Linked DNA regions of Homo sapiens. The protein of the gene in region 2 purifies or fractionates together with the protein of the main gene of each other region. This does not show direct contact. Each region holds a gene or a part of one and is shown on either strand. Other genes may lie near its edges.

Region 1 (3,500 bases), on a different chromosome or scaffold from region 2:
TACAATTTGATATCTTTCCTAAAATCCTATAATTCTGGAAGGGTTTCTGCCAAAAAATTTTTTTGACCAACCTCTTGCAGAGAAAGTACTAGAATCAGGTCTTACAGATACAAAGGCAACAATGAATTAAAAAACAGTTTAGTGAGACAAGTCAAATTGAATGGTAAAGTGTTTTAAGTATTTGTAAATTATGCTAAGCCTCCGGCACCTCCTAATCTGTATCTGGAATATAGAAGGCCAAGTCATTGACCTCTTTTAGTCTACACTTAGATAACAGCTTTAGAGACTACAGGAAGGCCTAGAAATAATCATTAATTTATTATGTGCTTGCAGCATTATGCTGAAGACATAATACTGAACAAGATACAAAATACTGCCCTTAAGCAGCTTTGTTTAATCGACGAGAAAGACAAGTGTATATGCACTATGACAGGTGAAGAGCTATGGAAGCACTCAGGTGGAGACCCAACCTAGACTTCAGTGATGAAGGAAAGTATTTTAGAAAAAGTAATATCTAATATCTGCTTCCAGTTGCTTGCTCTCTAAATTAGCCTACACACTACTACTAGACTAAGCTTTTAAAAACTGGTATGCCTATCATGGTACACTGTTACAAAACCTTTGATGTTTCCTAATACTTCTAGGATAAAGTCTCAAATTCTCTAACCTCTCCCTATGCTATCCTCCTCTCCTCTTTATTTAGTTACATTGTCCTTACTTCAAGGCTCAGACCGGATCTCAGCTCCTCAGAGCAGCATTTCTTCCATAGCCCTAGCCCTGACAACCTGAATTCCTGTAGCACCTATTACACATATATTTGCCACATATTTGCCTCTTAGCACATACAATTAAAAAATTTTGAGGGTTCACTCTGTGCCAGCCTTGTGTGAGACAGTGGAGACAAATACAGCATAGTCCTTGATTTCACAATTTGATTGGGAGACAGTGTTTAGATCTTCCACATCATATATTCTAGAGTCCCAACAAGATCTACTGAGTACCCTGTGTGAGGTAGTTCCATTATCAGGTACTAGGGAAATGGAGATAAAAGATGCAGTGTATGCTCTAAAGAGGAGTAAAGGAGATAAACTAGCAACCAAAAAAATCACAGTAGATTATAAGTAGCGTCACAAAAGAATTAGCACAGGGGGCAATGGATGCTTTGAGGAGAGATAAAAAGTTAGGAGGGCAATGCGAAAAGGCCTGGAAGTGGCTCCAAAATTGGAATCATTAACAGACTGATTGATGAATTAGCAGGGTGAAGATGTGAAAGCTTCTAAATTTCAAAGGAGAAGAGACCATGTCTTATGCCTCTGTGTAATCCCTACATCTCAGAGTACAAAGAATATGTTTGTTGATGCTTAGGAAGAATGACCCTAAGCCTTCTAGGTCCACCCCAATCAAGACTTAAAGAGTATGCAACAAGAATGACTAACACCACTCTGAAATGTTGTTTAAAATTTATTTTAAGGGTTGGGCATGGTGGCTTACGCCTTAATCCCAACATGTTGGGATGCCAAGGCAGAAGGACTGCTTGAGCCTAGGAGTTTGAGACCAGCCTGGGCACAAAGCAAGACCCTGTCTCTATCAAACAAACAAACAAACAAACAAACAAACAAAATTAGTTGGGCATGGTGGTGTGCGCCTGTAGTCCCAGCTACTTGGGAGGCTGAGGTGGGAGGATTCCTTGAGCCCAAGAGTTCAGGGTTGCAGTGAGCTATGATCATGCCACTGCATTCCATCCTTGGTGACCGGGCAAGACCCTGTCTCAAACATACATACATACACACACACACATTTAAAGAAAACAAACAAAAAAATCCAAAGAAATAAAAACCTCTTTTAAATGTACACATACAGCCATAATACAAGTTCCTTTTAAAATCAATTATGAGAAATACTAACCATTAACATGGTTAGGTTTAGTTGTTTTATTAGCAGTATTTTGAAGAGGCAAGCTTATCCTCACCTAAGGTAATGTCCTGTTTAGGAGGTTCATCAGAGCCTCACTATAATCTGAAAGCAGTATACCCCAAGTAAGTGCAAGATGTTATAGATTTAATCTGCAAATATTTAGTGACTAGTATGCCACAGTAGCTAGCATTTATGGGCCACCAACATATTCTAATCGTTTTTCATTTTTATTTACTAAAAAAATTTTTTTTGTAGAGATGGGGTCTCACCATGTTGCCTGGGCTGGTCTCAAACTGCCAGGCTCAAGTGATGCTCCCAACTTAGCTTCCCAAAGTGCTGAGATTACAGGCATAAGCCACCACACCGGGTCTCATTTTTTCTTAAAGAAAGAGCTAGTAGGGCCAGGTGCGGTGGCTCACACCTGTAATCCCAGCACTTTGGGAGGCTGAGGCGGGTGGACCACCTGAGGTCGGGAGATTGAGACCATCCTGGCTAACACAGTGAAACCCCATGTCTACTAAAAATACAAAAAATTAGCCGGGTATGTTGGCACATGCCTGTAATCCCAGCTACTTGGGAGGCTGAGGCAGGAGAATTGCTTGAACCCAGGAGGCAGAGGTTGCAGTGACCAGATCTCCCCACTGCACTCCAGCCTGGGCAACAAGAGCCTGGGCAAAAAAAAAAAAAAAAAAAAAAAAAAAAAAAAAAAAAGAGCTAGTACTTTATTAGTGCTTGATTGTTTTCAAAGAATTTGTATATAAAGTAAGTCCTCACTTAACGTCATTGGTAGGTTCTTGGAAACTGACTTTAAGTGGAACTATTCAGAGCAGCTCCTCCAACAACGTTGTTTCGATGTCCTTTCATTACAACGTAGATGAGAAAAAAATTGGTTTCATTATACACTTCACTTAAAATCGTAGTTTCCAGGAACCTATTGATGACCAGGAACCTATTGATGACGTTGAGGACTTACTGTATATCTCATCTGATCTTTATAAAAATCTTATTATTTCTCACTTAATAAATGATGAAATAGAGATGAAGATAAGTTATAGTGATTTGTCTAAGGTCACACAGTTGGGATGGGTGTCCATGTCTAGCTGTTTTCCCCTCCATCTGGGTTATGCTGCCCTTTAGGGCCACCTTTGTGAAAAGGGACCTCTTATTAAATTACTCCCAGGGCAGAATGGGAGAAAAAGCTACGAAAAGACTGAATATTTCTTTTTTTTCTTTTCATTTTTTTTTTTGAGACGGAGTTTCGCTCTTGTTGCCCAGGCTGGAGTGCAATGGCATGATCTCGGCTCACCACAACCTCCACCTCCCAGGTTCAAGTAATTCTCCTACCTCAGCCTCCCGAGTAGCTGGGATTACAGGCATGCACCATCATGCCCAGGTAATTTTTTGTACTTTTAGTAGAGATGGGGTTTTTCCATGTTGGTCAGGCTGGTCCTGAACTTCTGACCTCAGGTGATCCACCTGCCTTGGCCTCCCAAAGTGCTGGGATTACAGGTGTGAGCCACCACGCCTGGCCAAGACTGAATATTTTTTGGATTCTATAATGATATTTTAAAAATCTGCTTCAAAAG
Region 2 (3,500 bases):
TCTCACTTGAGAGGCCACACGTACTTGGATGTGCCAGAAGGCCAGGACAGCCACCACCATCGCAGTTGTGGTACGGCCCTGGCCGCTGAGGCAGCTGAACACGAAGCCAGTGCCTGGGTCCTTGGAGAGGGCGGCCCGCAGGGCCTCCAGCAGCTGGTCAAAGTCCTGGACGAGAAAAGCAAGGTCTGGGTCAGCGGGCGTCTCTTGGATGCACAAACCCCAACAGGGTCCCCATCCACATGGCAGCCCCAGCCACTGTCCTCGGGCCAGAAATTGTCAGGCTCCCAAGCTTGCACACACAAACAAAACTCACCGGGGTGCATGAGACCATGTGCGTGTAAACAGCTGCACCTGTGCAGTCGTAATCACCCTCACACCAAGCACCTGGACAGGATGTGTGAGCCAACACAGCATGCACCTGGGGCTCAAGGTACCCACCCTCCATCAGGCAGGACATGCACCTGTATGTCACCCCTGTGTACTGCGCCCCTGGGCTGCACATAGACTGCTGGCCCTGCCACCCACCTGAGCTGGACCCAGCCCTGGTCCCACCATGGACGGGGGCCTGACCTCAGAAGAGCCCTGCAGCACAAGGCCACCAGGAGGCAGCAGACCGCAGGCAGTGAGAGCCGCGAAGAGATGCGCCAGGAGGGGCTCAGGCAGGGTAACAGACCCCATTGCCAGTTACACAGCACACAGCGACCCACCTACAACACACGCACCACGCACACGGTGGCTCACCTACAACACACGCCAGACACACGCACCACACAGGGATCCACGTCCGGTAAACACACACACTATACAGACACCCACAGTCACAGACCTACAGATGCCACACACACACATTCCTAACGACCCCTCCACAAACCCTACCACACACCACACCACTCCCCTAAAGATGGTTTTCCACACACAGCCCCCAATACAGACAAGGGAGACATCACAAACTCCATAAAAAGACATGCACACACACACACATTCCACACACCACCCACACACTCCATACACAGTCCCCCAACTGAGACACACACACCACGGACACCCTGGACATGTTCACCCTCAACACACACACACACCTTATAACAAATACACACACACACCTGTAACAGAATACACACACACCCCGATAACACACACACACCTATAACACACACCCATAACACAATACACACACATACACCCTACAACATAATAAACACATGTACACACATCTTATAACACATATGCACATACGTAACAGAATACACACTCCAATACACACACACCTATAACAATACACACACATATACCCTATAACACATAATAAACACACGTACACACACACAAAGCTTGGAAGGAATGTGAATAAACCACTTGGGCCAAATCGGAAAACCTCGTGAGACCATTCCCGGGCCCCGTAGAGAAGCTGGGGTCGTTTCATTCTCCCAGAGCCCAGACCAGAGGGGAGACAGGGAGGCCTCCTGTCCCTCCCCAGAGGCCTCAGCCTGAGCAGCACCCTCACCTCCTCTCGGGGGGCACAGAAGTCCGGCATGGGGATGCGGTGGTAGGTGAGGCCAGGACAGGCCCTGCGGTGCTGGCTGAAGACCTCCTGCATGGTAAGGCAGGTCTGGAACCTGTAGGTCAGGGGGCCCTCCTTGCCTGGGGGAGGCTCGCTTAGATGGGCCTTCAGCTGGGCCTCCAGGGTCTGGGCAAGGGCAGGAGGGAGGACACAGGCCACTGGGGCAGGCTCTAGGCTAGCCCTGAAAGGCCACAGCCTGCCATGGCCAGGCCTGGCCCTGGCTTCCAGTCCCATCCCTGACCCCCCCAAGCCTCAGGGGTCACAGCCACCCCCCAAAGCCAAGCAGGTTAGCAGAGCACTTTAGTGGGAATCCTGAGTTGGCCACTCCCTGACACTGCTCCTCCCGGGGCCTCAGATTCTCCATCTGTCTGCGGGAGTGTGAGGCCTTCTGAAGACCCTCCCAGGCCACTCCCCAGAAGCCTCGGAGGCAGGGGTGCCTAGAGGGCAGGGGGCCTCACCTCCAGCTGGTCAGGAGCCACAGGGGGCCCAGGCCACCGCAGGCTGTAGGTGTGCCCGTCACACTCCAACACGGCCTCCTCCCGAAGGCTCACCCAGACAACCTTCCGCAGCCTCCTCTTGGCGTCCGTCAGGTAGGCCAGGATGCTCCCCAGGGCCTGGGCACAGGAGGGCCGGCAGTGAGTGCTCAGCCCTCCCTCCCCAAACCCACTGGGGGACCCAGGCCCTGAGGGCCGGTCACCTTGGCGCTGGGCTGGGCCGTGCCGTAGATGGGCATGCGGGGCACCCGCCGGAAGTTGGCCACATCCATCTCTCTGACAGTGCTGAGCGCGTCCGGGGAGACCAGATCGTCCTCCCGCTGTGGGGAGAGCACCAAGCCTGGGACCCACAGCAGCCGACTGTAGCCGCAGAAAGGGTCAGGACCTGGCCCAAGGCAGACGGGGGGTGGGGTGGAACCCGAGCTTCACAGTTTACAAAGCACTCCTGCACACTTGGAGCTTCCCCCGGCCCTGGCAAGAAGAAGTGCAATGGTGCCCACTCTCTGGACCAGGAAGCTGAGGCTCAAAGAGAAGAAGCTGGAGGCAAAGATCATAGAACCCTGCCCAGAGCTCTTGGGTTTGAGACTGAGGAGAAGGTACCAGAACAGCTGCCAAAGCTGCAAATGCTTGCTGGGGCCTAAGCATGACCCCATTCTGTTCACAAGAGGATCCCAACACCCACAGCCTCTCTTCTTCACCTCCTGCAAGGGCAATGCTTACCCCAACCCTACAGGAATCCAGTGTTTAGGGGCCAGGGCCAGTACACAGCCATGCCCACTTCTCCGACTGCCAGTCATACTCACTAGGGAGCCCCTGGCGATGAGGTCCCTCGGAGCCACAGGGCCTGCTGAGCTCAGCGTCACGGGCAGGCGGTACAGCTCAGGGTGGGCACACAGCCAGCGGCTGAAACTGAGGGCAAAGGCCAGCGGGTACTGCAGCCCGAGGCAGAGAGACGAGGAATTCAGGGGCACAGGGCCATCCTGAACCCTCCCTGCCCACACCATGGCAGGGGAAGCCCCAAAAGATATCCAACATGGCCCAGAGCAGGGACAAGGGAGTGGCTGAGAGAAGACCTGGACGTCTGGTGTCCTGGTTAAGGACAGAGACAAGGGCCCGGTGGAAAGAGGTGGGGCCTCCCTATGCCCAGCTGCTCAGGGACTACTCCCGAATCTGGGTCTCTCCTGGCCTCCCTTCCCTCCCCGGTTCCTTGGGGGGTCTCCCTCCACAGCAAGCCAGTCACTGCGGTGGGGAGGCTGGGAGAGGCCCAGGAGGAGGGGACGTGGGTCTGCTCCTCCCAGGCCCCACCTGCTCATGAAGGTAGTAGTTAAACAGGATCAGGTAGAAGTATCGCTCCAGGCTCCACAGCGCCCTCTGCCAGACGCTGTGTCGGCTGCCGCTTCCCTGAGAGAGAGGACAGGGTGTTAAGGACAGACTCCTCAGGCAGT
Region 3 (3,500 bases), on a different chromosome or scaffold from region 2:
ACTCCCACATGCTTAGCGTTCCAATAATGGAACACTAGGCATAAATACATTAACCCATTTTTAACCCCCAAATTAAGACACTAATTTAACAAAACTGATAAACATTTAAGTACGATTCCAGATAGAGACCATGTGGGTTTTACTTCTAATCTGAGAACAGAGGAAGTGAGCATAAAGTAATCCACTTTTAACTTGTAATCAGCACAATGCCTTGTCTAATGGTAGCACAGCCATCAATAGTATAGGAATCCATTTCCAGCTGTAAAAACCTCAGAGACCACTAGAGTTCCACTGTATAAAGTTGGATTTACAATCAAAATGGATTATCTCCCAATTCTTTCCTTGGAAGAATTTCTGTTATCCTAAGGTATGATCAATCATTATACCAGCATTCTATGAACAAGCACACTGGGCTGGACACAGTGGCATACACCTGTAGACCTGTAGTCCCAGCTACTTATAAAGCTGAGGCAAGAGGATTACTTGAGTCCAGGAGTTCGAGATCAGTCTAGGTAACATAGCAAGACCCCTTCTCTTTAAAAAAAAAAAAAAAAAAAGCACACTGATTTATTATTAGCAAATACTTTAGAAAATGTGAAATGATTTGGTTTTTCATTAAAGGTTGCCATGGAAAAATAAACACTGGGGATTACACATGGGGGGATGGTGTAAGGGAAACATGGGATGTAAAATTACCTATTGGGTACTATGCTCACTACCTGGGTGATGGAATCATTCACACACCAAACCTCAGCAACATGCAATTTACCTATGTAACAAACCTGCACATGTACTCCCTGAACCTAAAATAAAAGTTGAAAAAATAAAGAGTTGCCTTGGGTAAAAAATGGAACAAAAGGAGTACACCAAAAACATAAGAATATCCTCTATAACAGATGTGGCAAAGCCTCACATAAAGTCAAGTCTCACAAAGGAAGAACAAAGGCAGCAAATGGTCTAGAGCACTTGTTCTGGGATACCTCTTGGCCCCAAATCTCACAGAGATTGTGATTTGAAGAACGAAGCTCCAAAAGACCAAATATTCAGTGTGAAACTAATTTTTAAGAAGAGGCTACCAGTTCATCAGAATTTTGGAACATACTTGCCTTAGATATTTCAGTAAGGCTATCATAATTCATTTACACTCTACAGAATAAATTGTTTCTTTTCATAATAAATATCACATTTGCATAATAATTTAAGGACTTACCTCCCATAATCGAAGAATATCTAGAAAACTAAATTCCCTTTTGAATCTGATTAAAAGCCACCTGAAGCAAAAATAAAGGTATCCAGAGTCCTGAGATTCTATGCAGAAGAAAAAAACACACATATGACTTACTCTTATGCTAATTATGTCAGAATACAGTTACTTTTCTCTAACTTTCCTATGCATCTTAGGCAATTCAAGGCCCTATACATTTGTCTTCTACGTTAAGGAATCATTTCAAACTTGAAGGCTGACTTCTTTTTAAAAACTAACAAATAATACATTTTACGAATCAAGTTTAAGGCAGAATTATACAAAGAGAGTTTGGTTCCACATTTTTATGGAACCGAAGAAAGTGCAATAGAGTATATATGTCTTTAAGTTCTTTTTTATTGAGACAGTGTCTTGCTATGTCACCCAGGTCGGAGTGCAGTGGAGTGATCCCAGTTCACTGTAGCCTCAACCTCCTCGGCTCAAGTAATCCTCCCACCTCAGCCTCTTGAGTGGCTGGGACTACAGGCATGCATCACCACAGCCAGCATTTTTTTTTCCTTGTAGAGATGGGGTCTCACTGTGCTAGCCAGGCTAGTCTCAAACTCCTGGGTGCAAGTAATCCTCCCTCCTTGGCTTCCAAAGTGCTGGGATTATAGGCATGAGCCACTGCACCTGGCTTCTTTAAAGAGTTCTTTACATTTTTTTCTATGCATTACTCTACAATTTGCTGGGTATAGTTCTGATTCACTAAACTTACCTAAGTAACTGCAAAATCCACTGTCTAACAATCGAAGTAAGGTACTCAGCTGAATTAGCTGGGTCTTCATGCCTTGCATTTGTTCTTCAAAATTCTGATGCTTTAAAAGGAAATAATTGTTACAAGTAATATTTAATAAATATTTTATAGTACATAATGACTGATAACTAAAACATGATGTCTAAGGACAAATGCTGAACTTATACCACACTGGTAATCTTAAAAAATGCGTAACTAACCAAAAATCTAACGTAACACTAAAAGGGAGGGTAAAGAGAAAGAATCCTTGCTCTCAAAACTAAGGATTATTTTTTCCTCTATTCATTTGACTTAGATAAAGAAGAATGCAGACATAGCAACTGCAGACTGACTATTTATTTCTTACACAGCATAAAAGACTTGGTGAAAGAAACACACATTTGGGAAATAAATATTTATCAAATTCTTTCCATTGTTAAATATTCCTTCAAATTATACATAATAAAATTAATTTTAGTTTTAGTATGTATTTCATTTTAAAGAATTACTTTACATTGGAGAATCTGTAAAGCCAAAACCATTTTCAGGACAATACTAAAACATTATCTGGATTTCATACTTAAATTCTTTCACAAGTGCAAAGGCTGTATGATGTGTGATACTCCAAAAGACTGAACACAGAAGCAAATATGAAAATTCAGCTGTCTTCTATTAAACCAGACATTTTTAAAAATGAAAAATTTAAAACAATCTCTTGTGTCGGTAAATTTTTCATTAGGAAAGGTTACTTTTCATTAAAAAAAAGTGATCTATGTTAAGGTAGAATGTGTTGTTATTTAATGAATTAATAAATAAATGAATACAAGTTTCTCAGTATTAATTTTTCACATAAACATCAACAGATATAACCCACATAAACAAAAACTCTTTCAGGTCTTCAATAATATTGGAGAGTGTGAAGGGGCCCTGAGGTCACAAAGTTTGGGAACTGCTGGGGTTCATATGCTTTAAAGAAACTTCATAGTTGAGTAGACTCCCTACCAACACCTGAGTCAAGGGGCCAGAAGGCACCAAAACTGATGCTCTGAAAGGCTTCTTAAATGATTTGGATCCCTTTAACTCATATGTCCCGATCCCTCTGTGGTAACCTACCGCCCTAACCCTAGTGAAAGCCTTAGAAAAACATTTCCTCCTTCACACTTACTTTTTCACTTTTACAGTACAATAGTGCTTTATTAGAACTATCATATTAGAAACAATTCATTCTTAAAAAAAATTTAAGTCTATTAATTCTCAATAAGCTGTTTCTCTTTAATGAATTTTAAAAACCAGTTTATTAATAGACTAACTCAAGGCTTTAGGATATAGTTCCTCCACATTTACCAGAGAGATCTATAGAGAAGGGGCAGAATCAACTCTGATTAACAGGATCATTTTTGCTGTGACACAGTCAAAGACTAGAGCTGATCTGGGAATACCAACATGGCATAGACATTTGCTACCCACTCTGCTGTAAAAAAGAAACATGTCCATAATGACAGACACCATATTCGAAAAAGT
Region 4 (3,500 bases), on a different chromosome or scaffold from region 2:
AGCTTATTCAGTTATAACTGAGGGCTTCTCTACTGTAAATTACAATAGTTACAACATGAACCTTGCATTCCAGAATTTCAAATGTGAATTTTAAAAATTGCTGCAATCTATAGCATGGAATTTAAGGTATAAAGCAGAAGAGTATAATAACAGGGGCATTAGAACATGACTGATAAGTTTTATGAACTTAATGGCAAGATTCTTAAAATTTTGGGGCTTTGGGCTTTGATTCCACCTGTAAAAATAGGGTGTGTTAAATCAGATGATCCCAAAATTCTTTCCAGCTCTACAATCACGAATTCATATGAGGTATAAATGTGTGTCAGCAATCTGAGATGGAAAAAAAAAGCAAATTTAAATTTTTTTCTCTTTTCTCTCCTATCTTGAAAGTATGGTTTTGTCTGACAAGAGGCCTATAATGATACCTGTTTTAATCAGAATTCATTTGAACTCTTAGGATAGTTGTTTTGGCTTTTGTACTGTTAGTCAATTTTTATTAATATTTTTTAAGAAATTATACGTTGATTTTAGATCTTAGTCATTACGAAACTGTTGGCACATACCTATTTCAAGTACCTTAATGGAGAGAAATGCTGATATGTATTGATAGTGGGATTGTGGTAGGAAATTTTGTTGAAGTTTATTGTTAGAGACTTTTCTCAAAAATTAAGAAAATTGAACCTATGAGCTGAACTGCTTTTGAACTATTTGAATTACAATTTCTACTACTTTTCTCTGCTTTTTTAGGAAATGTGAGTTCTTCTCCCAGATCTTCTGATTTAGTCAAATTAGCCCAAGAGTGCTGTTACCATAATAACAGGGGCATTGCAGCTCATGGAGTTAGAGTCCTAACTAATATAACTGTTTCTTGTCAAGAAAAGGGTAAGTTTGATCAGGACTGATATTACGTATAAACTTTGGTTTAGACCTTGGACAGAATTCTGTTTGATTTTTTTTTAATCCCTTATTTTTAGCCTGTGTGCCTTGATCTACAAATTGACTCCTTTCAAAGTGTTCTTAGAGCATGTGTTCTTAAGACTACTTTATCCTTGTGAAAAATAATAAAGAGATGAAGACCTTGGGAGTGGAATTGAAAGGTTTTATGGAGCATTGCCCATTTCCTTCCACTGCTTACCTTTGCATATATGGTGCATATATGGTGGATAAAGATTGCTTAGGACTCTACCCCTTTTGTATAAGGTGGTATGTTCACTTATACAAAAACCTAGAAAATTTACTTAGGTTCTCCAGGGACTTAAATAACAAATAGTTTCACCTAGAGGCAAGTGAATTCACAGACCAATGTGAATTAAATTTTCACAGAATTTACTCTAGGTATATGTGGCATTAAACTGACTTGCATAATCAAGGAGGACATGCAAGGAAAATAATGCACATATTTTGTTGTCTACCTAACATCTTTTGACTTGTGTTCAAGAACAAGAAATGCATTTTGGATATTCCATCTGTTTCAGTGCTGATTTTGATCTTCATTAAGGATTACAAGCTCAGTGGTTCCTCTTATCCCCCCTAGCCTTCAGCACTGCTTGTTCCTAGTACCTGTTTTTTTCTAGCAACCTGACCTTCACTAGCCTTTACTCTGTTTGCCAAGCTCCTGCACTCAGGAAACATTTCTTAAAGTTGAAAGTTGATTCTGATTTGGATAATTAAGCCTGTTTTATATTGGCATCACAAAGAGTATTTTCTTCCATGTAACACAGAAAACTGCTGTATGTTCTCAACACTGAAATATATTAACCTAAAGGTAACTAATATATTCAGAACTTTCTAAAACCTTCAGAGAAATTTTAACCCTATGGTAGTGAAAAGATGTTCTAGTGCTGCTATTTCATGAGACATCTAAGAGGTTCATTCTTTATGGTCAGACTTAAAACAGTAATAAGGTTATGTGGAGACCTTATTATTTCCTAAAAGTGGTTCAGCTTTCATTAGAAGCTGAAAACTGTTATATCTTAGGTAAAAATGGACCTGCATAATTTATTTCTGATTAGGGAGATTAACACATACTGCATAGTTTGCTGTTCTTAGTATTTTCCTTAGCTAAGCTGGTGACACTATTTCAGTTTTGCTTTATTTATAGCTTTGTGGCTTTAGCTCTTGATTTAATGTGTATATTTTTATAAATACTTCAATAAAGTGGTAGAAATAAAGTCTGAAGATAGACTTTACATTCTAGAAGTAATGCCACATGTACTTTTTCAAGGAAGGTTAGGTTCATCCATTTAATAATTCCCTATATCTTAAACTCCTTAATGTTTTTTCTAAGAGAGTGTGTATGCATGTATATGTGTGTGTGTTTGTACACACATCACTTGACCATCATAAAGTTTACTGTTTTTCTTCTAGATCTTTTGGCACTGGAACAAGATGCTGTCTTTGGCCTGGAATCCCTACTGGTACTTTGTAGTCAAGATGATAGTCCAGGTGCTCAGGCCACTTTAAAGGTGAAAACTTTTATTTATTAAGTTGTAATAGATATATATGATGGTCTTAGGCAATAGAAAGCAAAGTTAAGCAGACATAGCTCCTGTACTCTTAGAAGTTTTAATCTAAGTGATTAAATCTAACTGATAAAACTACACTGATTTAATCTAACTGATAAAACCACAAAAAAACTGATGACATGACTGCAGCCGACTCATAAATGTTCATTAATTTAACATAAGCGTTCATTAATTTCCCAGTGGTATAAGCCCTAGTTTATAAGCCAAGGGAAGAATATTTTAAGGAATTTTCACCTTCACTTAGTTACAGAAATCATCTTAGAGATATGCAAGATTTTTAAAATGTGAAATGAGGCCAGGACAGTGGCTCTCATGCCTATAATCCCAGCATTTTGGGGCGGTCAAGGTGGAAGGATTGCATGAGCCTAGGAGTTCAAGACCAGCCTGGGCAGCATACTGAGACCCCATCTCTAGAAAAATTTTTTAAAATTTAGCTGGACATATTGGGGCACACCTATAGTCCTAGCTACTCATGAGGCTGAGGTGAGAGGATTGCTTGAGGCCGAGAGGTTGAGGCTGCAGGGAGCCATTATTGCACCACTGTTCTCTACCCTATGTGAAAGAATGAGACCCTGTCTCAAAAAAAATAAATAAATAAAATGTGAAATGAAACTACTCTTTTTGGAGTGAAACGTGAAATATAATTTGTGATGGTGCAAAATTAATGAGGAGAAGCATAGTTAATAGAAGTAAGAAACTGTTAGATAAACATTGGCGTTAGCTTGTCTAAGGTGTGGTTTCAAGGAAGTCATGGCTCATTTTAGCAGGTTAAGGAAAGTTGTGATATGGTCATAGTGATGAACAATAAAGATAGTAACATCATTAAGTGACAGCTAATAAGAAGTAGAGAAGGGAAGTAGACAACATGTGTTTGGCAACACATTCTGAGGGGGATCCTCAGAATCCCCTTGGAACCACAGTACATTTAAGACTTTTTTTAAAAGCAAATCTTTTTTCCAACAATTGTGGGTGTCA
Region 5 (3,500 bases), on a different chromosome or scaffold from region 2:
TTCCATCTTATTTTTCTTAACTAAAGTATTTTTGAAGAACAGAAATATTCTATCCACATTACAAAATGCCTGGAAAATGCAGAAAGAGGACAAAAAACCCACCCACAATCCACTTGGAGGTCACCTCCTGGCCCCACGTGCTGTCCGCCACAGTCTCCCTCCTGCCCTCCCGTGAGCCAGCCCCTGGGCCCACCAGGCCTGGCCCTGCGCTTCCCTGCAGCTTCCCGGCCCCACTCTCCTCCCGAGCCTTGGGTTCTTAGTGCTTCCTTCACCCAGCAGCTCTGGTGAGGGGGCTACTGAGTGCAGGCACCAGGCGAGAAGGCAGAGACCTGCCTCAGAGAAGGAGCCGTCAGCAAGGCCACCCGGAGGCCGGGGAGGAGGAAGCAGCAGGGGGCGGCCACGTGCGGCGCAGGCTGCAGGGTTCCCCGGAGCGATGACCAGGGCTGTCCCCGCAGCAGGAAGAACGAGCGTGGTCTCTTGTTCCCCGCTTTTCTCATAGGAGCCGCATCCGGCTGGCTCCACCTGCTTGCAGTCCGGGGCCCACATGCTACCCCTGCAGACATCCCTGTTGCCCCGCACCCCCATGCCCGGGCTACTCCCGGGCGCCTGCCTGCAGCTCCTGCCCGCCCCCCTTGGATTCCAACAGGCCACCCAGCCATGCTGGTCCTCACTGGCCTCCGGGGCGCTCACTGGCAGCCTGCATTGCTGCTTTAACTACAGCTTATTTTCATTGCAAAAGATTTTAAACGTATGGAAGATGTGGAGAGAATAATAGAACCCACACTCTACGGATTCAAATCTTAACATTTTCCTATTTGCTTTAGACGCATTTTTAAAGAAATAAAGCACCGCACATGTAGTTTGAAGATGCCTGTGTTCTCCTCAATCTTGCCGCATTCACTCTCCTCAGGCAGAACTACTGTCCTGAGTGAGGTCCCTAGCCGTATCTGCGAGGATATATACGCAGGCACGCACATACATGCACACTCACACACAGAACACACATGCACACGCACGCTCACCTATACACACGAGTAACAGTGGTTTCTCAAAGTAATTCGTCCGTGGAAAAAACTCAAACCCCCAGAAGTGCACCGGAAGCAGGTTCCTGGGAACTCTCCCTGTGGGGGAAGTCTCTGCACTCCCAGCACTGCGCTCTGTGACCCTCAGGCTGCTGCAGGCCGCACCTGGGACACCTGCCCTCAAACAGCTGCCCGCCCTGCAGGACACCATTTTCACCAGAAGGCAGGCCCTGTGGTGACGTTTCCACTCTTTGCTGTGAGTGCTGCCTCCAACGGCCACATACATGCAACCTGTCTGTGGTCTAAATTCCCAGAGGAGGGAATTCTTTTTTTTTTTTAGATGGAGTCTCACTCTGTCACCCGGGCTGGAGTGCAGTGACATGATCTCGGCTCACTGCAGTCTCTGACTCCCAGGTTCAAGCGATTCTCCTGCCTCAGCCTCCCGAGTAGCTGGAACTACAGGTGCACACCACCACACCCAGCTAATTTTTGTGTGTGTATATTTTTAGTGGAGATGAGGTTTCACCATATTGGCCAGGCTGGTCTCAAACTCCTAACCTCAAGTGATCTGCCCACCTCGGCCTCCCAAAGTGCTGGGATTACAGGTATGAGCCACTGTGCCCAGCCAGAAGAGGGAATTCTCAGCACGCCTGGTGGTGGGGTTGCCTTTATCTCTCTCGCCAGACCTCTGGGAGCTCACACCACCAGGGAGCCCACCTGGCAGGTGACTGAGTCCACAAAGGAGGCGCCACATGCCCGGGTGTGCTCATGCATGTGTGTGGGGCACTGCCTGGGAACGCCTGTGCTGCACCTGTCTGCTCTGGGGCCTCATGTCCCCTGCTGCACAGTGACAGCAGGAGGAGCCCGATGGCACCTGAGGAGTGGGGTGCACACATGTTCATGTATGTGATCACATGCATGTGTGTACACGTGATTGTGCATTCATGTGCATGTATGGAAACATGCACATAAGCAGGACGGCATGTGAATGTGTGTAGATGAAGCTCATACATATGCATGAGCACCTGTGCATGTGTGTGTGCAGTGCCTATGAGCGTGCACGTGTCGTGTGTGCCTGTGTTGTGTGGCGTGGGCACATGTGCACTCTTGGGTTGTCCCTATCTGGAAAGGCCCTTGCTCCTGACCCAGCTGTACTTCTGCTGCCAGCTTGTCTCCCTTTCTTTCCTAACTTTCATCTAGACCATGTCATGGATGGTCCTCAGGGCAGTCTTGCTACACAAGCCCAGTTCCCACCCACCTGGTGGACCCCGGAAAGCTGGCCTCTAGGAAGGTAGGCTGCAGGATCCAGAAGCCCCTTCCCCTCCAGTTCCTGCTGCAGCCACCACGAGTCCCATTCCTGCCCCATTCCACCTGCCCAGCTCTAGGAAGGCACAGGGCTCTGTCCCAACACATGCTGTGGCTGTTCCTGTCCTTGCCCCTGGGCCCCAGGAAAGTAGCATATGACACTTGAGGCCCGCCCCCGCCCCAGCTGCTATGTTCCTGCCTCCTCTCCACCCTCTGCCTGGCACCTGCCTCTCCCCTGCCTCATGCCTCCACTTTCACCTGTCCTTTCCTGGAGGTGGCCCCAAGCTTCAGGTCTGACCTCTCTTCCACCTGTAGCCAGTCCTTCCAGCAGCCCCCAAGCCAGCCCCCACTAGGCTGCCTGGCTCTGCCCTCCTTGCATCAAGAGAGAAGTCTGGTGTCCACATGTCCCAAACACCTCCTGTCACTTAGTTAACCTCCCTTTCTAATGTACAGAGACAGCTGCCCCTCCCACTCCACAGGGGTTCTCAGGCGCACAGCAGCAGGCAGCTGGAATGGAGAAGAGAATGACATTATGTCATTTGGTTTCCAGTCTGCTTTGGTTCTATAGTCACCTTACACTAATGGTAAGTGAAACTAATCTTCTGTTTAATGAAGTAATATGCAGTGCTTTTAAACAAATTGTAATTAAAATGGGAGTTGATGGGAAGAGAAAGCGTGAAGTAAACAGAAGAGGAGATGCATGGTCAGAGTTCCAATCAAGAGTGGTAACCGTGCTGAAGTACGGGAAGCAGGTCCGTTGTGAGACCCACCCACCCATTCCACAGATGGGAAGCCTAGGCTGCCCCTGCCCTGCGGAATGGCGCTGCCCAGACCCCAGCTCAACCCAGCCCCCACTCTGCCTCCCCACATAGCACATGGGAGCTTTTGTGTCCTTGATATCCAGGCCCCTGAAGAAGGGCATGATCCCTGATGGAGGGAAAGGAGGGGGGCCCAACATGAAGAGGTGCCCGGGTCGGGAAACCTGCTGGCTGAGGACAAGCTGTCCTGGCAGTTCCAGAGACAAAGGGGAGGTGGTGGGCAGGGCCTGGGCTTGGAGGGGTCTGCACGAGCCAAGAGCCTCTGCAAGTCAGGCCTTCCAGGTGCCCTGACATGAACAGGAGCCTTTGCATTGCCTGTGGCTCTCTTGGGGTGAGGCAACAGGTCCAGGCAGGC
Region 6 (3,500 bases), on a different chromosome or scaffold from region 2:
GACTTTGATTTTGGCTTCTGCATCCCCAGCAGTAGGAACACTTGTGAACATATCTATGAGTTTCCCCAGCTTTCGGAGGATGTCAGTATGTATCCCCTGACCCTTACAGCACTCTAGATTCTGAGGGCTACAAGGAACAAACCTTGAAACCCATCTGGTCCAGCGCCCTGGCATTGTCTCGTGGCAGTGCTGACATGATGCGTATCTAGTCATTTGACCTCAGGCTTCTCATTTCCTATTGCTCCTGGCTCCTGTTCTAAACTCTGACTCGGCCCGTATGGGAGCAATGAAGGGTTTGTTTGTTTTTGTTTTTGTTTTTTTCCCCTGAGACAGAGTCTTGCTCTGTCTGTTGCCCAGGCTGGAGTGCAGCAGCGCGATCTCGGCTCACTGTAACCTCTGCCTCCCAGGTTCAAGCGATTCTCCTGCCTCAGCCTCCTGAGTAGCTGGGATTACACCACACTTGGCTAGTTTTTGTATTTTCAGTAGAGACGGGATTTCACCATGTTGGTCAGGCTGGTCTCGAACACTTGACCTCATGATCCACTCTCCTCGGCCTCCCACAATGCTGGGATTACAGGTGTGAGCCACTGCCCCCGGCCCTTTTGTTTTTTTCTTTTTTTTTTGAGACGGAGTCTTGCCCTATTGCCCAGGCTGGAGTGCAGTGGCGCAGTCTTGGCTCAGTGCATCCTCCGTCTCCTGGGTTCAAGTGATTCTCCTGCCTCAGCCTCTCGAGTAGCTGGGATTATAGGCACCTGCCACCATGCCCGGCTAATTTTTTGTATTTTTTGTAGAGACAGAGTTTCACCATGTTGGTCAGGCTGGTCTCGAACTCCTGACCCTGTGATCCACCTGCCTCATCCTCCCAAAGTACTGGGGATTACAGGCGTGAGCCACTGTGCTCAGTCTGAAGGTTTTTTTTTTTTTTCTTTTTGAGACGGAGTCTTGATCTTGTCACCCAGGCTGGAGTGCAGTGGCGCAATCTCGGCTCACTGCAAGCTCTGCCTCCTGGGTTCATGCCATTCTGCCTCAGCCTCCTGAGTAGCTGAGACTACAGGTGCCCACCACCATGCCCGGCTAATTTTTTGTATTTTTAGTAGAGACGGGGTTTCACCGTGTTAGCCAGGATAGTCCCAATCTCCTGACCTCGTGATCCGCCTGCTTCGGCCTCCCAAAGTGCTGGAATTACAGGCTTGAGCCACTGCGCCCGGCCGGTCTGAAGGTTTTAATAATACAGGCCATCCTTTTAGATGCCTCCTGTGGGAAGACAGTGCCTAAGGGAGATAAAAGGAGGCCTGTGACCATCCCTGGGACGCTGATCAGATAAAGCACCTCTCCTGTGCACTGTTAGTCATGGTTTTCCATTGTGTTTTAGTCATTGGCCCTTCACTTTTTTCTTAATCAGAGCTAGATGTGAAACTGCAGGCTAAATAGAATCAAGGCCAGAGGACTTCTTTTCCATTCCCTGCAGGATAGAGAGTTGATTGGATAAAGTGTTGAGATAGATCCAGCAGGAAGGAATGGGGCTGTTGTAGATTTTGGGGCAGGAGTGAGAAGGTGGAAATACTGTTTGAGGAAGAGTGGCCTAGACCTGGGGAGGGCACCAGAGGGAGAAGGCTGCTGCCGTGTAGCCTCGGCAAGGGAAGATGGGGACCAAACGAGAGAGAAAGAACAGCCCTTGTCAGTTTCTGCAACTTTGGCCTAGCCACCTCAGGTTCGCATCCTTTGTGAATAGTTAGGGAAAATTCAAGTCATTTATGAGGGTGTGAATAGAATCCTGTGACTAGTGATGCCTGTAGTTGCCTTGCTGGCATCACTGATTGGTCCTCTCAGAATCCCAGGTCCTTAAGAATTGTCATATTCTGAAAACCAGATAACCTTTAATCGTGTGGCAGTACAGTTCCCAGGTAAAATGAGGATTGCTGAGATGTGGGGCAGGGTGTTGACGACAGCATCTGGTTCTGACTTGAACCCCTCTTCCCAAGCTGGCTAGAATATGTAGATACTTGCAAGAAAAGATGATGTATAGTGTTATAAGTTTTACCCATGAAGCCAAATCAGCCTGGAGGGCAATATTATGCATATAAACCGAGTAGTTTTGGCATTGGTGGGTTCAAAGAACTTTAAAAAATCAGTTTCACTTTTTGAGAACTGTGGTGAGCAACAGCATTTCCTCCAGGGGACTCCAAATGGCATGTAATCATTAACTCAAAACTGATCAGAGGTAGTATTATCTTTATTCTCCAGTATGGTTAAAGACTCAAAATGGCATGTAATCATTAACTCAAAACTGATCAGAGGTAGTGACTGTTAATTATCTTTACTCTCCAGTATGGTTAAAGAGGTCTGGGCAATTGCCTGAACAAACAAGACTTTACTTTAGATCCCAAGACAGGCAGACCTATTGCTGAATCATTTGCGAGTTAATACCCAGAAGGTCTCCGGAGAAGGCTCCCTGCCCTGTGTTCCTTGCACTCATTCCAATCTAGGTTTCCTTGGGTTGTCAGGGTTGTGTGTGGAGGTGGGCACAGTGAGGCTCAGATTTCTGAATTTGGAGTGGAATGTCTAGAGGTGGGCCACTGACCAGAGGCCAGGGCTGGCTTTGGTCAGCTGAGAGCACTGAGTAAATAGGTTGGTGGGGTCCATGTTGGGAAGAGGGGTGAGCACATTTCCCTGGTATCTTGGCTGAAGAATCCAGGCTGGAGATGACAGAGGAGGCCATGGTGGAGAGTTGATTGCATCCTTATGTTGAAATGGAGATCATGTTCAGCTGGGGGGCCTCTGTGGTCTCCCCAGCTGTCAAGGGCTGCCTCCCTCTGTTCTGACCTCATCGTTATTCTGGCAGAGTATACTCTGAAGCGCTGGCTTATTTTGGAGGGGATGCAAAGTTTTCTCCCACCTACCCTGTGGGGCAGACTCAAACATAATTCTTTGCTTTTTTCTTCCCCCTTTGCCTGACTTGCAGTTCGTCTAATGATTGAAAATCCTTACGAGACCCGCTCTGACAGCTTCTACTTTGTTGACAACAAGCTGATAATGCACAACAAGGCTGATTATGCCTATAATGGAGGCCAGTAAGTGCTGCAAGAGTAGATAGGGGAGGTGCTTTGCCGCGGCCACAAGATCCTGGCACACGGAGATGATCGAAGCTGCAGTTTGTCAACACACATCTGGAACCTGGCCCCAGGAAGCCAAGGCTGGGGTGGCAGTTTCCTGCGCGCCAAAGGAGCTGCCAAACAGTGCTGTGTTTTCTTCCCCAGTATTTTTTCTTCCCTTTTTTTCCTGCCCCGTAGGTTGCAGAGGTACTATAGTAAAGTAAAAGGTTAGGATAAGGGTCCTGGAATCCAGATAAAAAAGTTTATTTTCCGTAGTTCTGGCTGCCTGTTGGTTGTCTTGACGACCAGGCATAGCTGTGCCTGGTGAGAAGGCTCTGGCCAGGCCCACCAGCAGGTCAGCAGCTCTTAAGGTTCCTGGGTGCTGTGGGAAGCTGAAAGGTAGGCCTC

What was found.
Region 1: the proteins of PALD1 (region 2) and IKBIP purify together in Homo sapiens (co-immunoprecipitation; one large-scale study listed by IntAct). This does not show direct contact.
Region 3: the proteins of PALD1 (region 2) and TBC1D15 purify together in Homo sapiens (co-immunoprecipitation; one large-scale study listed by IntAct). This does not show direct contact.
Region 4: the proteins of PALD1 (region 2) and INTS7 purify together in Homo sapiens (affinity purification with mass spectrometry; one large-scale study listed by BioGRID and IntAct). This does not show direct contact.
Region 5: the proteins of PALD1 (region 2) and CAMK2B purify together in Homo sapiens (affinity purification with mass spectrometry; one large-scale study listed by BioGRID and IntAct). This does not show direct contact.
Region 6: the proteins of PALD1 (region 2) and UNC119B purify together in Homo sapiens (co-immunoprecipitation; 2 studies listed by BioGRID and IntAct, with this or other methods). This does not show direct contact.

What each region holds. Positions count from the first base shown.
Region 1 is NC_000012.12:98,627,789-98,631,288, forward strand, and holds part of IKBIP (inhibitor of nuclear factor kappa-B kinase-interacting protein), read right to left. Parts: intron 1-3,500. UniProt on the Homo sapiens protein: Target of p53/TP53 with pro-apoptotic function.
Region 2 is NC_000010.11:70,537,767-70,541,266, reverse strand, and holds part of PALD1 (paladin), read right to left. Parts: intron 3,457-3,500; coding exon 3,361-3,456; intron 2,988-3,360; coding exon 2,859-2,987; intron 2,376-2,858; coding exon 2,259-2,375; intron 2,176-2,258; coding exon 2,020-2,175; intron 1,688-2,019; coding exon 1,505-1,687; intron 166-1,504; coding exon 25-165; intron 1-24.
Region 3 is NC_000012.12:71,916,259-71,919,758, reverse strand, and holds part of TBC1D15 (TBC1 domain family member 15), read right to left. Parts: intron 2,062-3,500; coding exon 1,962-2,061; intron 1,309-1,961; coding exon 1,211-1,308; intron 1-1,210. UniProt on the Homo sapiens protein: Acts as a GTPase activating protein for RAB7A. Does not act on RAB4, RAB5 or RAB6.
Region 4 is NC_000001.11:211,980,058-211,983,557, reverse strand, and holds part of INTS7 (integrator complex subunit 7), read left to right. Parts: intron 1-747; coding exon 748-882; intron 883-2,367; coding exon 2,368-2,465; intron 2,466-3,500. UniProt on the Homo sapiens protein: Component of the integrator complex, a multiprotein complex that terminates RNA polymerase II (Pol II) transcription in the promoter-proximal region of genes.
Region 5 is NC_000007.14:44,221,095-44,224,594, forward strand, and holds part of CAMK2B (calcium/calmodulin-dependent protein kinase type II subunit beta), read right to left. Parts: intron 1-3,500. UniProt on the Homo sapiens protein: Calcium/calmodulin-dependent protein kinase that functions autonomously after Ca(2+)/calmodulin-binding and autophosphorylation, and is involved in dendritic spine and synapse formation, neuronal plasticity and regulation of sarcoplasmic reticulum Ca(2+) transport in skeletal muscle.
Region 6 is NC_000012.12:120,716,958-120,720,457, forward strand, and holds part of UNC119B (protein unc-119 homolog B), read left to right. Parts: coding exon 1-85; intron 86-2,962; coding exon 2,963-3,075; 3' UTR 3,076-3,500. UniProt on the Homo sapiens protein: Myristoyl-binding protein that acts as a cargo adapter: specifically binds the myristoyl moiety of a subset of N-terminally myristoylated proteins and is required for their localization.